Homo sapiens: one gene and its partners. The protein of the gene in region 4 purifies or fractionates together with the protein of the main gene of each other region. This does not show direct contact. Each region holds a gene or a part of one and is shown on either strand. Other genes may lie near its edges.

Evidence for each region. Proteins that work in one complex are often made in the same cells at the same time.
Region 1: the proteins of PTPRO (region 4) and SIL1 purify together in Homo sapiens (affinity purification with mass spectrometry, with the first as the bait; 2 studies listed by BioGRID). This does not show direct contact.
Region 2: the proteins of PTPRO (region 4) and SDF2 purify together in Homo sapiens (affinity purification with mass spectrometry, with the first as the bait; 2 studies listed by BioGRID). This does not show direct contact.
Region 3: the proteins of PTPRO (region 4) and NGLY1 purify together in Homo sapiens (affinity purification with mass spectrometry, with the first as the bait; 2 studies listed by BioGRID). This does not show direct contact.

What each region holds. Positions count from the first base shown.
Region 1 is NC_000005.10:138,950,369-138,953,868, forward strand, and holds part of SIL1 (nucleotide exchange factor SIL1 precursor), read right to left. Parts: exon of another isoform or gene 1,517-3,500; coding exon 1,420-1,516; intron 968-1,419; coding exon 803-967; intron 1-802.
Region 2 is NC_000017.11:28,651,907-28,655,406, reverse strand, and holds part of SDF2 (stromal cell-derived factor 2 precursor), read left to right. Parts: coding exon 1-120; intron 121-3,500.
Region 3 is NC_000003.12:25,759,444-25,762,943, reverse strand, and holds part of NGLY1 (peptide-N(4)-(N-acetyl-beta-glucosaminyl)asparagine amidase), read left to right. Parts: intron 1-3,500. UniProt on the Homo sapiens protein: Specifically deglycosylates the denatured form of N-linked glycoproteins in the cytoplasm and assists their proteasome-mediated degradation. Cleaves the beta-aspartyl-glucosamine (GlcNAc) of the glycan and the amide side chain of Asn, converting Asn to Asp.
Region 4 is NC_000012.12:15,500,508-15,504,007, reverse strand, and holds part of PTPRO (receptor-type tyrosine-protein phosphatase O isoform a precursor), read right to left. Parts: intron 2,389-3,500; coding exon 1,945-2,388; intron 101-1,944; coding exon 1-100.

The DNA.
Region 1 (3,500 bases), on a different chromosome or scaffold from region 4:
GAGAGACAGTGATGGACAGAGGTGGCCACAGCCATCCCGACACTGCCTGGGAGAGAAGGCCTGGGGGAGGCGTGTGCAGAGGGAGTGAGGGGCCCAGCCTCCACCATTCGGCAGCAGTTCCAGCGGCTGCCCAGCCCTGCTCCACTAGTCGGCATGCGGCTCTTCTGGGGAGCGTGTGGCCCGAGAGAGGCAACTGAGGAAGCCCTGCCAATGCTCTCTGCAGTAGCTGAATTAAGAATCCAGGCCTGGCTGGTTTTCCTCTCTCCTCCTTAATTAAGATGCTTCTTCAAGCTTGCAAACAGGGCTGGGCACCAAGTCTCCTCCCAAGTGGCAAGCAATTGGGTCCCTGAGACTCTCAAGGGCAGCCACTCTGAGGCCCTGCCCAGAGCCAAAGCTCACAGAGGAGGCACCTCCACGTTTCTAGAATCCGAAGAGTGAGTGCCATTCGAAGGAGCTCTGGGCTGTTCTACCCCCTCAGCCTTTTGTCCCCTCGGGGCCTGGTCTCGGCTGCTCCAAGGCTTGCCTCATACTGAGCCCTCTGCCTGCACACTTGGCCGTGACCATGGCTGGCAGGGCCACCTCCCACTCCTCATCAGCCCTCAGGTTTCAGCTTAGCCACCACATCTCACATGACATACTCCCTGACGTCCCCAATCTCTTCCAACTGTCTGTCTGTCCATCCATCCAGAAGCACACACAAAGCAAACAAGTGACGTCCGCAGTCTCTTCCATCTGTCTGTCCATCCACCCAGAAGCACACACAAAGCAAACAAGAGGAGACTGGGTGGGCCTGGGCACTCACCTTCTCCGTGACCAGGTCGTAGAGCAGTGTGACCACGCGCACGGCGAGCACCTCCGTGCCCTTCTCCTGCACCAGGGTCCTCAGGACCTGCAGCCCCCCGAGCTTCAGGAACTGCCGCTGGGCATAGGGGAAGTGGCGCAGCAGGGAGCACAGTGCAAACAGGACCTGGGGGCACAGACCCAGGGGTAGGTGAGGGGCCAAGCGAGCTGGACCTGCCCTGAGGCCCAGGGAAGGCAGGCAGAGGTGCCCCAAATTAGTCCCCATTCCTCCCGGCCCCACCTCAGTTACAGCTATACCCCAGAACCCAGGACTGTGAGGCCAGGAGGGACTCAGACACCTTCAACATTACCAAGTGAGTAAATGGGAGGTAAACAGAGGCCAAGGGTGGGAGGCCAGGAGTAGGGCCCAAGGCCACAGCACAGGAGCTGCCCCCAGGCCTCTAGTCACCTCGGCACACTGCCATCTGCTTTAGTTGAGTGTAACTTCTCCCCCTGTGCCACCCAGCAGATGATGCTCAGGCCCCCATGGTAACATGCACAGCCTGGACAGGAACCCTTTCCTTTCAGGCCCCACACGTGTCCTGGAGGCTGGGCAGGAGGAAGGGCATGGAAACACACCTTCTTCTTTGCAGTGAGCGGCTGCTCCGTGGCCAGGATGACCAGCAGCTTCTGCAGGGCTCCCCCTTCGATGGCCTCCACCTGGACCTTGGGGTTGCTGGGGAAGAAGCACAGGACAGCATGACTACCCTGCCCAGCCCAGGGATCGGATGGTCAGGGAACTGAGCCCATGTCAGCCATCCCTGGGGAGAAACAAGAACAACAGAGGTTCCCACACGGGGCAAGTCAAACTCAGCTGGGGAAACAAAGACCATCTGGCACAGACCCACGTGGGAACAGCGGCCCACAGCACAGGTGACAGGGCTGAGTGCTCCCATGCCAGCCCCCACTCCCCAGCAGCCAAGGGGCTGGAGTGGGCTGGGAAGGTGAACAACCTCTACTACTGTAAAGACATTTCGATGCCGAAGGTGCTCCTTCAGCGTCCCTCCCGTAGGAAGCCTTTCTTGGCGCTTCCCAAGCCAGTGCCGGATGTTCCTTCCTCCATGACCCAAGCACATCACACACTGGGGCAATTACTAATGGGTCTGTTCCCCTCTGGGTCTGGTGCCCCAAGGCCAGGGCCCCATCCCTCTCCTCTCCTGGGTCGGCACTCAGACTGCACATAGAAAATGCTTGCGGGAGAAGGCAGGAAGAAAGTGCAAGAGACAGGAGCCTCTGAATACCCAGGCAGATCCTAAAACAGGACAACCCAATGCCTCCCACTGGGCTCCCACTCTATAACAGCAGCTACTGTCAGCTTCTCTGCCCTGTATTCTCAGCACTCAGCACAGAGCCTGCCACGTCACAGGTCCCTGGACAGTAGGGAATGAATGAACGACTGAACGAACGAACGAATGAACAACACGTGTACACAACCATGAACATATCAATAGATAAACATACTGCACTAAAGTACTCAAAACCCTGAGCTGCCTCTGGAACTCCTCTCCCCATTCTGGGCTAGAGAAATAGTGATGTGATTAAAACATTTCAGGCCCAGACCTCCCAGATGAAGGGATGAGGGGCCTGGCGGGGACCCCCATCAGGGCAGGGTGCCATGCAGGGGACAAGGCCGGGATCCCTCACAGGATGCCCTTTTGCAGGCTCCTTGCTTTTCAAGATTGCATTAGGGATCAATTAAGGAGCAAGTGTCAAGCACAGGGACCAGATAGTCAGGCCCTTGGGCAGGTCAGGGCTCCCCTCTCAGCAGCCCACATGTGAGGCCCCAGAGAAAAGAGGGGACAGGCACACAAAAGCCTGAGGCCAACAACAAGTGAAGGGGCCAAGCCAGCAGTCAGATGGTGGCTGTCACACCCATCCAACTAGCCCACAAAGGACACCGCAGTCTACCAAAGCCACCGCATGCCTCTGGCTGCCTGCCCTTGGCATGACCACAAGCTCCCAGAGACCCAAAAAGCACCTGTTCCTCCTAACTCCCAACCCTCCTGGCCAGGGGGCCCTCACGGTGTCCTTGAGAGTGAGCCAGGGTATAAGGAAACAAAGACAAATCAGAAGGAGCTGGCTCCTGGTCCTAAACCCAGAAAAGACACACTGTGCCACCGTACAGGAGAGGGCCCGACACACAGCAGGCGTGCCCCCAAAGCTGGCTGAATGGAATGAAGATAGCTCCCCACTTCTATTCTGACCAGGAACAAGCTTCAAGGTCCAGAGCAGACCGAGCACGCTGAGCCAGCTTTCTAAAGAGAAAAGCTCCTTTGTACCACGTGTCACTCTGTAGCCTCTCAGCCAGAAAGGAAGTACAGGGTGGGTGCCAGCCCGTCCCACAGCAACTCCACCCCTGTGTCTGCAGAGCAGCCTGGAGATGGGCCAGAGTCCCTGGGGAAGGGAGGCTGACAGCTCCTCTCCAGATAGGCAGGCAGGCGCTGGCGCAGGGGGGCCTGGGAGCTGAGCTGCTCCCCTGCCCCCCACGACTTGAGACAGGCAGCTGTTTCATCAAAGCATGAGCTAATTAGGGCTGTCTCTGCCATCATGTGCCTAAGGAACGCTCACCCATGACAGGAGGGTCCAGGAAGAGAAGACGACCACGCTGAGAGATTCACACAAACATCAAATGCTGCTTCCCCAAGGGGGCTGAGAGATCT
Region 2 (3,500 bases), on a different chromosome or scaffold from region 4:
GCCACAGTGTGTGAGAGGGGAACCCCCATCAAGTGTGGCCAGCCCATCCGGCTGACACATGTCAACACTGGCCGAAACCTCCATAGTCACCACTTCACTTCACCTCTTTCTGGAAACCAGGTGAGGTGGCTTTCGATGGATTGTTGCTGCTCTGCATTACTCAGTGGGTGCTTGTTTGATCTCTTGGTTCTTAAATGTTTCTTTTCTAGGTGTAGATGTTCTCTTTTGTGCAGACCTGGGGAAATGGCTCTATTTTTGTGTGGGTTTTTGTTGTTTTTGAGACGCAGTCTCACTCTGTCACCCAGGCTGCAGTGCAGTGGCATGATCTTGGCTCACTGCAACCTCCGCCTCTGGGTTCAAGCAAGTCTCCTGCCTCAGTCTCCCAAGTAGCTGGGATTACAGGCGCATGCCACCATGCCTGGCTAATTTTTGTTTTTATTTTTATTTTTTTGAGATGGAGTCTCACTCTGTCACCCAGGCTGGAGTGCAATGGCATGGTCTCAGCTCATTGCAACCTCTGCCTCCTGCGTTCAAGCGGTTCTCCCACCTCAGCTGCCCGAGTGGCTGGGACTACAGGCGTGTGCCACCACACCTGGCTAATTTTTTTTTTTGTATTTTTAGTAGAGATGGGGTTTCACTGTGTTGGCCAGGCTGGTCTCGAACTCCTGACCTTGTGATCTGCCCACTTCGGCCTCCCAAAGTGCTGGGATTACAAGTGCAAGTCACCGCGCCTGGCCTGATTTTTGTATTTTTAGTAGAGATGGGTTTTCACCATATTGGTCAGGCTGGTCTCGAACTCCTGACCTCAGGTGATCCACCCGCCTCTGCCTCCTGGAAGTGTTGGGATTATAGGCATGAGCCACTGCACCCAGCCGGCTTTGTTTTATAAGTGTGAAGAAAATTGTTTCTGGTCAAAGTGGAGACAACAACTAAACCAAATCAAGAAATGGGAAGGACAGACAGACTGGGTATACATCAGCATATCATAAGTTCTGATATTCTGCAATAAAGAAACCCAATGTTTTCCAACTTGCAGTGTTTTTTTTTTTTTTAATGATGCTAACTAGTTACATTAGGAAAATAGATTTGCTTTTGTGTCACTGTTTTTTGTTTTTAAACAGGGTCTTGCTCTGTCACCCAGGTTGTAGTGTGATCTTGCTCACTGCAGCCTCAGCCTCCTGGGCTCAAGCAATTCTCCCACCTCAGCCCTCACTACAGGCTCACGCCACCATGCCTGGCTAATTTTTGTATTTTTTTTGGTAGATACGGGGTTTTGCCATGTTGCCTAGGCTGGTCTCAAACTCCTGAGCTCAAGCTATCTGCCTGCCTCAGCCTCCCAAAGTGCTGGGATTACAAGCATAAGCCAGTACACCCAGCCTTGTGCCACTGTTTTAAGCCTTGAGTTGTCAGGGGATGTGGACACCTTAATGACTCCTTCCCTGTCCCCAGCCCCTGTATGCAGTTTTCCCTATTAATATCTTACCTTCGAAGGGTAAATTTGCTATATTTAATGAAGCAATATTGATACAGTTTTATTAACTAAAGACCATAGTTTTTTTCTGATTCCCTTGTTTTGTTTTGTTTTGTTTTGTTTTTTGAGACAGAGTCTCGCTCTGTCCCAGGCTGGAGTGCTATGGCGCGATCTCAGCTCACTGCAACCTCCGCCTCCCAGGTTCAAGCTATTCTCTTGCCACAGCCTCCTGAGTAGCTGGGATTACAGGTGCCTGCCACCACGCCCGGCTGATTTTTGTATTTTCAGTAGAGACGGGGTTTCACCATGTTGTCCAGGTTGGTCTCGAGCTCCTGACCTTGTGATCCACCCACCTTGGCCTCCCAAACTGCTGGGATTACAGGCGTGAGGCCTCCGTGCCCGGTCCCTTAGTTTTTACCTAATGTTCTTTTTCCATTCCAAAATACCACATTACATATACTTGCCATGTCTCATTAGGCTGTTCTTGGCTGTGACAGTTTTTCAGGCTTCCCTAGTTTTTGATGACCTTGACAGCTTTGAGGAGTGCTGGTCAGGTGTATTGTAGATTGCCCCTCTGTTGGAATTTGTTTTTCTTGTGATTAGACCGGACTTATAAAGGGTTTGGGAGGAAGATCACAGAGGTAAAGTGCCATTTGTATCCCATCATATCAGGGGTACATACTATCTTTATGATTTATGACTGTTGATGTGGACCTTGATTACCTGGCTGAAGTAGTGTTTGTTCGTTAGGTTTCTCCTGTAAAGTTATTCTTTTCATTTTCCCCCTTTCCATGCACTTTTTGGAAGAAAGTCACTATGTGCATTTCACTCTTACAGACTGGAGAGTTATACTCTGTCTACATTAGGGTGGAATATCTACATATTTTATTTGGGATTTTTCCATATTGGGGATTTGTCTCTTTTCCCCAATTTATTTATTTATTCAGTTATTTACATTAGTATAAACTTATGGATAGTTTATACTTCGTTATAATCTAATGCTACTATATTTTGTTGCTCAAATTGTTCCAACTTTGGCCATTGGGAATTCTTTCAGCTGGCTTTGTGTCCATTGGCAGTATCCCATTGTGTTTTTGTGTATATGTGCCTGCACTTTAAAGCACTTCTTTCCTTTCTGGCACCAAAAGATGCTCCAGGCTCATCTTGTTTATTTCTTGCTCCAGTACTAGAATCAGCTGTTTCTCCAAGGAGCTCTGCTTCCTTTTATTGGAGAATGATATTAAAACCAAGTTCTAGGCCTTATGTAAGCTTGTTGCTACTGGAGTGTTTCTTTTAGGCCCTCTCACTTGACAGAATAAATAACTGTAAGCCAGGCGCAGTGGCTCACACCTATAATCCCGGCACTTTGTGAGGCAGAGGTGGGTGGATCACAAGGTCAGGAGTTCGAGACCAGCCTGGCTAACATGGTGAAACCCCGTATCTACTAAAGTACAAAAATTAGCTGGGCATGGTGGCGGGAGCCTGTGATCCCAGCTACTTGGGAGGCCGAGGTAGGAGAATCGTTTGAACCTGGGAGGCGGAGGTTGCAGTGAGCCGAGATTGCACCATTGCATTCCAGCCTGGGTGACAGGGCGAGACTCTGTCTCAAAAAAAAATTAAAAAAATAAAGAATTGTTACCTGTGTGTGCTTACTCGTGTATATATTACATATCTATAAATTTTTATTTGCATAGCCATCTGTATCTACATATATTAAGTTAAATGAGCTTTCTTTTTCTTTTTCTTTTTTTTTTAAGATGGGTTCTTGCTGTGTTATTCAGGCTGGAGTGCAGTGGCTACTCACAGGTGTGATGATAGTGCACTAGAGCCTCGAACTCCTTGGCTCAAGCAGTCCTCTTGCGTCAGCCTTCCAAGTAGCTGGGGATACAGGCATGCCCCACTGTGCCTGGCTAGTGTTCTTATTGATGTCTTTAGCTGTAATCCATTACCACATAGATCGTCCTAGCCTCCTCCCTGTGCTAATTTGTAAATTCCCACTCCAACAGTAAGATACCTTGTTCCTACCATC
Region 3 (3,500 bases), on a different chromosome or scaffold from region 4:
TCACTCTTGTTGCCCAGGCTAGAATGCAATGGCACGATCTTGGCTCACTGCAACCCCCACCTCCTGGGTTCAAGAGATTCTATAGCCTGCGCCTCCCGAGTAGCTGGGATTATAGGCACCTGCCACCACACTTGGCTAATTTTTTGTGTTTTTAGTAGAGACGGGGTTTCTCCATGTGTGCCAGGCTGGTCTCAAAACTCCTGACCTCAAGTGATCCACCTGCCTTGGCCTCCCAAAGTGCTGGATTACAGATGTGCACCACCACACCCAGCCCTTTTTTTAAGTTCTTAATCTTACAATTCAGATATAGTTCCAGGTCTTTAAAATCCTGTCCGTCACCAGAAAGCCTCTAAACACTACACTAAAAACAGAATGTCATTCTGTTGGCAAAACACATTCTAGTGTAGAAGAAAATAAATTTTCTCAAAGGTGTATGCTATTAGTAGGCTAGTGTATATCAATTCTTACTACTCTAGTCCTTCACACAAAATATCTTCTGTGTTGAAGTTGAGAGAAATTAGAATGAATCTTGTTTTTCATAGACAACTCTTGGTTATTCGTGGATCACTGGAATATATGTATTTCTTTAAAGTATTTTGTTAATTATGCTTTCATCATTAGTTGCTATACTACAGAATTTGACAGTTTTCTTCTACCTTGCCCATTTTGAGTGGAGATACTGAGAATTAAAATGTACCAAAGTCAGGGAGCCAGAGAGATATTTTTTAAAGCATTTAACCTGTGTATAAACTAGATAAGTCCTAGTGAACTTATAACTTTTTTTTTTTTGGTTAAAACTATATCAAGTAAAATGTCGATGTATAAGTTAAGATGATAGTCACTGATGTTGACGTTTGCCAGTAAGCTTTTAAGATACAAAATACTGGAATATATTGATACTCAATAAATGATGATAGTGGTGGTGATTGTTAGAAAGTTAATCTTGCTACTTTTTCTGGACATTTTATGTTAATAGAATTATAGTATGTAATCTTTTGTTTCTAGCTCTTTGTGTAACATTTTTGAAGTTCTTCGTATTGCAGGATATATCAGTATTTTGTTCCTTTTTATTGTTGAATAATATTCCATTTTAAGGATATGCCACATATTGTTTCCATTCATCAGTTGATGGACATTTGGGTTGTTTCCCATGTTTGCCTATTATGAATAATGCTGCTGTGAACATTCACATACAAATTTTTGTGTAGACATATGTTTTTATTTCTCTTGAGTAGATTCCTAGGAGTGGAACCACTGGGTTGTATGGTAAGTTTATATTTATGTTTTTAAGAAATTACCAAGCTGTTTTTCAAAATTGTACCATTTTACTTTATCATCAGAAATATGTGAGGCTTCCCGTTTCTTAGTATCCTCACCAACCATTGTTACTGTCTTTTTTAGTATACCCATTTTAGTGGTTGTTAAGTAGTAGTTCATTTTGGTTTTAATTTGCATTTGCCTGATGACTTAATTGATTTTCAAACTTGCTGGTTGTACATGCTAAGTGTTTAGTGTTCCTAATGGAAGTAACTTTCTGATAATCCTTTATTTTTATACCCATTGCCTTCCAAAAGCAGATTCAAAACAGCAAGGACAATTTTTCAATGACATGGTACCTCAGAATGTTAGAAGCATTATGTTTCCAGCTTCACAACTTTATCTCGGTTGAAAATGTGATTCTGAAGTATAATATGCTTAAAATATACATTTAGTACTTTTTACTCAGCTAATCTAAATGTATGCTTTTATTTAGCACATGACTACTTTGAGTATGTATATGAAATTGTTAGGAACTTTTCATCAACTCTTTATCACTCTAGAAATTACTGCCAGTTTATATATGGGTATGTGTTTATTTAAACCAATTATCATAATTTGTGATTATTTCATTGAAATTATAAAAGTCATATATTATCAGATAATGATAAATAATAAAACGAACTAGTTAATTTTAAAACTAATTTTATCTCATAAACCAACAATAAGGCAACCTCTTAGTCTTAGTCTAGATCTGTGTGCGAGCTTTTTTTTTTTTTTTTTTTTTTTTTTTTTTTTTTTTTTTTTTTTTTTTTTTTTTTTTTTTGAGACAGAGTTTCACTCTTGTTGCCCAGGCTGGAGTGCAATGGCGTGATCTCGGCTCACCGCAACTTCTGCCTCCTGGGTTCAAGTGATTCTCCTGCCTCAGCCTCCGTAGTAGCTGGGATTACAGGCATGTGCCACCACGTCTGGCTAGTTTTAGTATTTTTAGTAGAGACGGGGTTTCTCCATGTTGGTCAGGCTGGTCTCGAACTCCCAACCTCAGGTGATCCGCCCACCTTGGCCTCCCAAAGTGCTGGGTTACAGGCGTGAGCCACCGTGCCCGGCCTGTGTGCTAGCTTTGTAAGAGAAGAAACCTATTTGAACATAAGATTTAAACATCCACTTTCTTTTTCATGAACCTACCACTCTTAAAAGTTAATACTTGCATGCCCTCTGATAGGGGATTACATTGTGTCCTTATATCAGCATACTTAGCGTATGTTAAAAATGAAGATGTGATCTGTTTTGACATGAATAACATTATTATATGGAAAAAAGGTAAACTGAGAATTCCAAAATTAAACAACATATGTTGTCTGTATATGTGTAATATTTTGATTTTTCTTATTAGAAACATACACACACACATACATATATATATATGTTCATTTTTTTAAAGGTTTGGAAGGCCATACACAAACATCTTAACCATAATGTACTCTGAGTGATGAAATTATGGGTGCTTTCATATTATTTATACTATTGAGTATTTTCTGAAATATTTTTTGAAGCAACATGTATTACCTTTATAAATAGAAAAGTTTTTCTTTAAATAAGTTTATTGAAGTCACAAGTTGATTAAAACATATTTAAAATAACAAAACTTTTATGTCTAAAAACAGGTTCTAAATTTTAAAGCCTCAAAATAAAGGGTTGCATAAAATTAAAGAGAGGGCAAGTAGGCTCAAGCCTTGATTTGTTGTGTGTGTGTGTGTGTGTGTGTGTGTTTTTTTAACTAAAGAAGTGAATTTGCTAATCTAACTTCCATTGATTAATTACCACGATTTGACAAAATTATACACATTGTACTTTTTTCTTATGAAGTCTTAAATATATCTCATATCAGAAATCAAAATAATTGGAAGTATGATTAGTGAAGGAAAAATCTCTTTGATCTAAAACCAACAGATTTCACATTTTAAACTTCCATTTGTACTCTAAGTAACTTTAGTCTCTCAATTAACTGCTGCCTTATGTAGCATTAGTACATGGTTACCCAGCTGCTGTAATCACCATGTAATCAGCAACTTTCTATTTTTATGACTTAGTTTTTTCAGAGTTGTGCCAATGAATATGTAAAGAAATAAGGCAAGAATATAAACTTTATTGTTTAAAATATTTTGAGTGCCATTAAAACTACAATGAATGAGGTAATTTCCAGATTGAAAAGAATTAAATTGAAAATAAAAATACTCCGGATG
Region 4 (3,500 bases):
CTAAAGGTTGTCACAGATAACTTATATTTCCCAGGTTCCTTCAGTTCTGCAACAAATTCATGTGCTTCTTCATCCACCATCAAATATTCAGTAAAGTTCTCTAAATCATATATAAAAAAGAGAAGATACATGAATAGACACCTGGAAAGGCCCTGGGTATAGACAAGTCGATTAATGAAAAAAAATTAGGTGTTTTAAATGTTCCCTCCTTTTGTCAAGTTCAATTACACCTCTAAACTAAAGGTACCATTAAAGAATAATAAATAAGAGTTCAGTATTTTTACAGTCTTCCAAATAACAAAACTCAAATACGGCATTCAAATCAATAAAACTAGGGATGGGTCTACACTGTGTATCTTTATGTACTCCTACCCAACAAAATTATGTGTACAAAATAGAAGTAGATAATCAGGAAAAGTTAACAATTGTTGGCTTTCTCATCACGAGGTAAGGGCTAAAAAATAACCAGGATCAAATATCTTGTAAGTTCTTTGTGGTAGTATTAACCATCCAGAAGTGCTTTAACATTTATTTAAAATACATCTAATTTTTAAGGTATATTTTCTGATGTACCCCTGAACTTAAAGTAAAATTAAAAAAATAATAATCATGGTAATATTTTTCCTTTATCCATTTGCTTTCAGATCTTCTTAAAGAAAGAATTATTTCACATTGCTTCACAGTCCATCCATCCTCTGCTGCTTATTACTTCATTTGAAGTCATTATCATCAGTTGGTGACTACAACAGCCTTCAAAAGAAGACACTGAGTCAGATAAATGCATAATAGAACCTTCATGAGAAGAGGCAGTAAAAAATTTTTGTAATGACAAGATCCTATTTGCCGTAGGAACATATTTAGGAACAGAAAAATAAATGATAGATTAAGGAAACTTTAAAAAAAATAGGAAATTCCAGGAAAATGACTTTTGACTCAAATAATTAAGAATTTTCATTTTATGTAATATTTGGGTATGGTTGAATGCTGTATCATCTTGTATAGAAGAATCCACAGATTTTGTATCTCATGCTATTAAGTAAAATAGGAGTAAACAATATGTCAGTATATGAGACTACATGGGCCTTAAACTCTCACCCTAAAAATAAGGCTATCACTGTAACTTCAAATTTTTACAAATTATAACCTCTGCCACTCAAACTACTAGATCAGAAAATGGAAAATGAAGTATATTACTGTAAAAACTAAACAAACAACAAATAACCATAAAAATCTACCAAACAACAATTGAGATAGGTATCATGACCCAAACTTGTTGAAAGTCATGGCTCTACTTTCCTAAGTTAGTGGCTAAAATATAAAGAATGAACCTCAGATGCTGAGTTAGTCAATGCAAAATATAATATAGTAGCTATATGGAAATGTCAGCAGCTGTGTATTTTCCATTTTACTATCAGCTTCTCTTTGGAAAACTGTGGTGCTTTTTCTAGAGGGGCGCACCCTAAAGGGAACAAGAGCGGCTGGTTAGCAGGACACATGCCTCATATTCTTGAGGAAGTAGTAATGTTTTCATAAGTATTACTTTGCTGCCATGTTTAAAAATTTGCATATGAGAAAACAGAAAATTTCTCTAGGTTATGTTGTAACATTCTGGGATAGTTAGATCTTTAATTCAAAATATTTCCAAATATGATGTTTTCCTCATTGTTCTGAGACATGAGAAATAGTGGGCAGTCAAATGTATACAGTTGGCAGTACTTACAACTTGTGAATCACCCAAACCTTCTGATTCTTATCCAGTCTATTCATTTGGGTTTTCTGCTCTCAGTCTGCATTGGATACTCAATTAAATTCTCCCCTTTCATTACCATTATTCTTTGACTAATAACTGTCTATGATCAGTCTTTCTAAACTCAAATTTAAAAACATTTCAATTCCCCTTCCTTTGTATCAGTTCTTATTTCCTCTGATTTCCTACTGCTTTACCTTCTCGTTCAATATGGATATGGAACCCATCAAAAGCAGTGGGTGGTTTGGGTGGTAACCAGGTCAATATCATTTGCACAGGGAAAAAGGAGAAAGAGCCTGATGTTGACTTCTCTGTCTCACTGAGTGTACTGTTATTTTCGTATTCCATGGGAAGTACGCTGACAAATTCATCTTCACTTTCAGGAGCTGCAGATGCACTGTCCCACCAATATGGCTGAGACGTAGTTTCATAGTCACTGCTATTAAAATCAGGCCAACCGGAAGAAATGTTGCCCGAGGGAATTTCAGGGGTTTCTTCTGTAAAATGGAAGAGTTTTTCTTTTCCTATTGTATCTTGTGATCTCATGAAGGATTCTTCTGGGAAATTGCCACTCTGTTCTTCCCAGTTGTTTTTGTTCAAGTTTACGATACGAACGGAAATATTTTGAGGTGGATAAGGGGCTGTAAGAGAGAGAATTTTCATTTTCAAGTATTTTTTAATTCAATTAGAGTGAATACTTAATCTCTTAATGAGTCAGGTACACAAGCAGATTTTTAAAAGTGGAATTTAATTTTACTTCTGATACACAGACAAATTTACATCAAGATAAGCTGTGTTTTTTTCCATATACATACTTCTAACATTTTGTGGATGATGTATACCTATCAACATACCACTAGTCACACTTCAAATATATTAACTTACAATATTATGCTTGTTGAAGTGGTAATTCAACCACTTCTAAAAGCAGAGTATATAAATATTTTTCAGTTTATCGTAATTCCACTTACAAAAAAATGTATCTCTGTTCCTGGATTTTTATTACAAAAAAACCAAAACAAAACAAGTATAGTGTACTTATAGCTATGAAGATGAAAATACTCCATGTGACATAGTTGCACCTACAAGAGTTGCATACATGTGTTGCCTTTAGAGATGTTAACACACATGTTAGAAATATAGCTTCACTCCTCACCTCCCTAAAATGAAACATATAAACTCAAAATGAGTTTACAAATTATGGAAGCACACTTTACTTACAGGGAGAAAATTATGAAGACGCACTGCGTAGTCTCTGCCTGTAACAGTTTCTACTTGTTCTTCAAATAGCAGTTCCATTATCACCTCTTCCATGAACTTTTTTGTTAATTTTTATTTTGAGACAGTATCTCTCTCTGTTGCCCAGGCTAGAGTGCAATGACGTGGTCTCGGCTCACTGCAACCTCCGCCTCCTGGGTTCAAGCAGTTCTCCTGCCTCAGTCTCCCGAGTAGCTGGGATTACAGGCACCAGCCACCATGCCCAGCTAATATTTGTATTCTTAGTAGAGATGGGGTTTCACCACGTTGGCTAGGCTGGTCTCAAACTCCTGACCTCAGGTGATCCACCTGCCTCGGCCTCCCAAAGTGCTGGGATTACAGGCATGAGCCACCGTGCTAGGCCCCATGAGCTTCTAATAAAAATTTATCTCTCCTTCCTTTGTGTTGTTAAATAACTTTGTACCTCTGTTATAATATTTATCTCATTCTGCCTTGTGTTAGTGCCATTCGTGTATTATGAGTACCAATTTTTGAG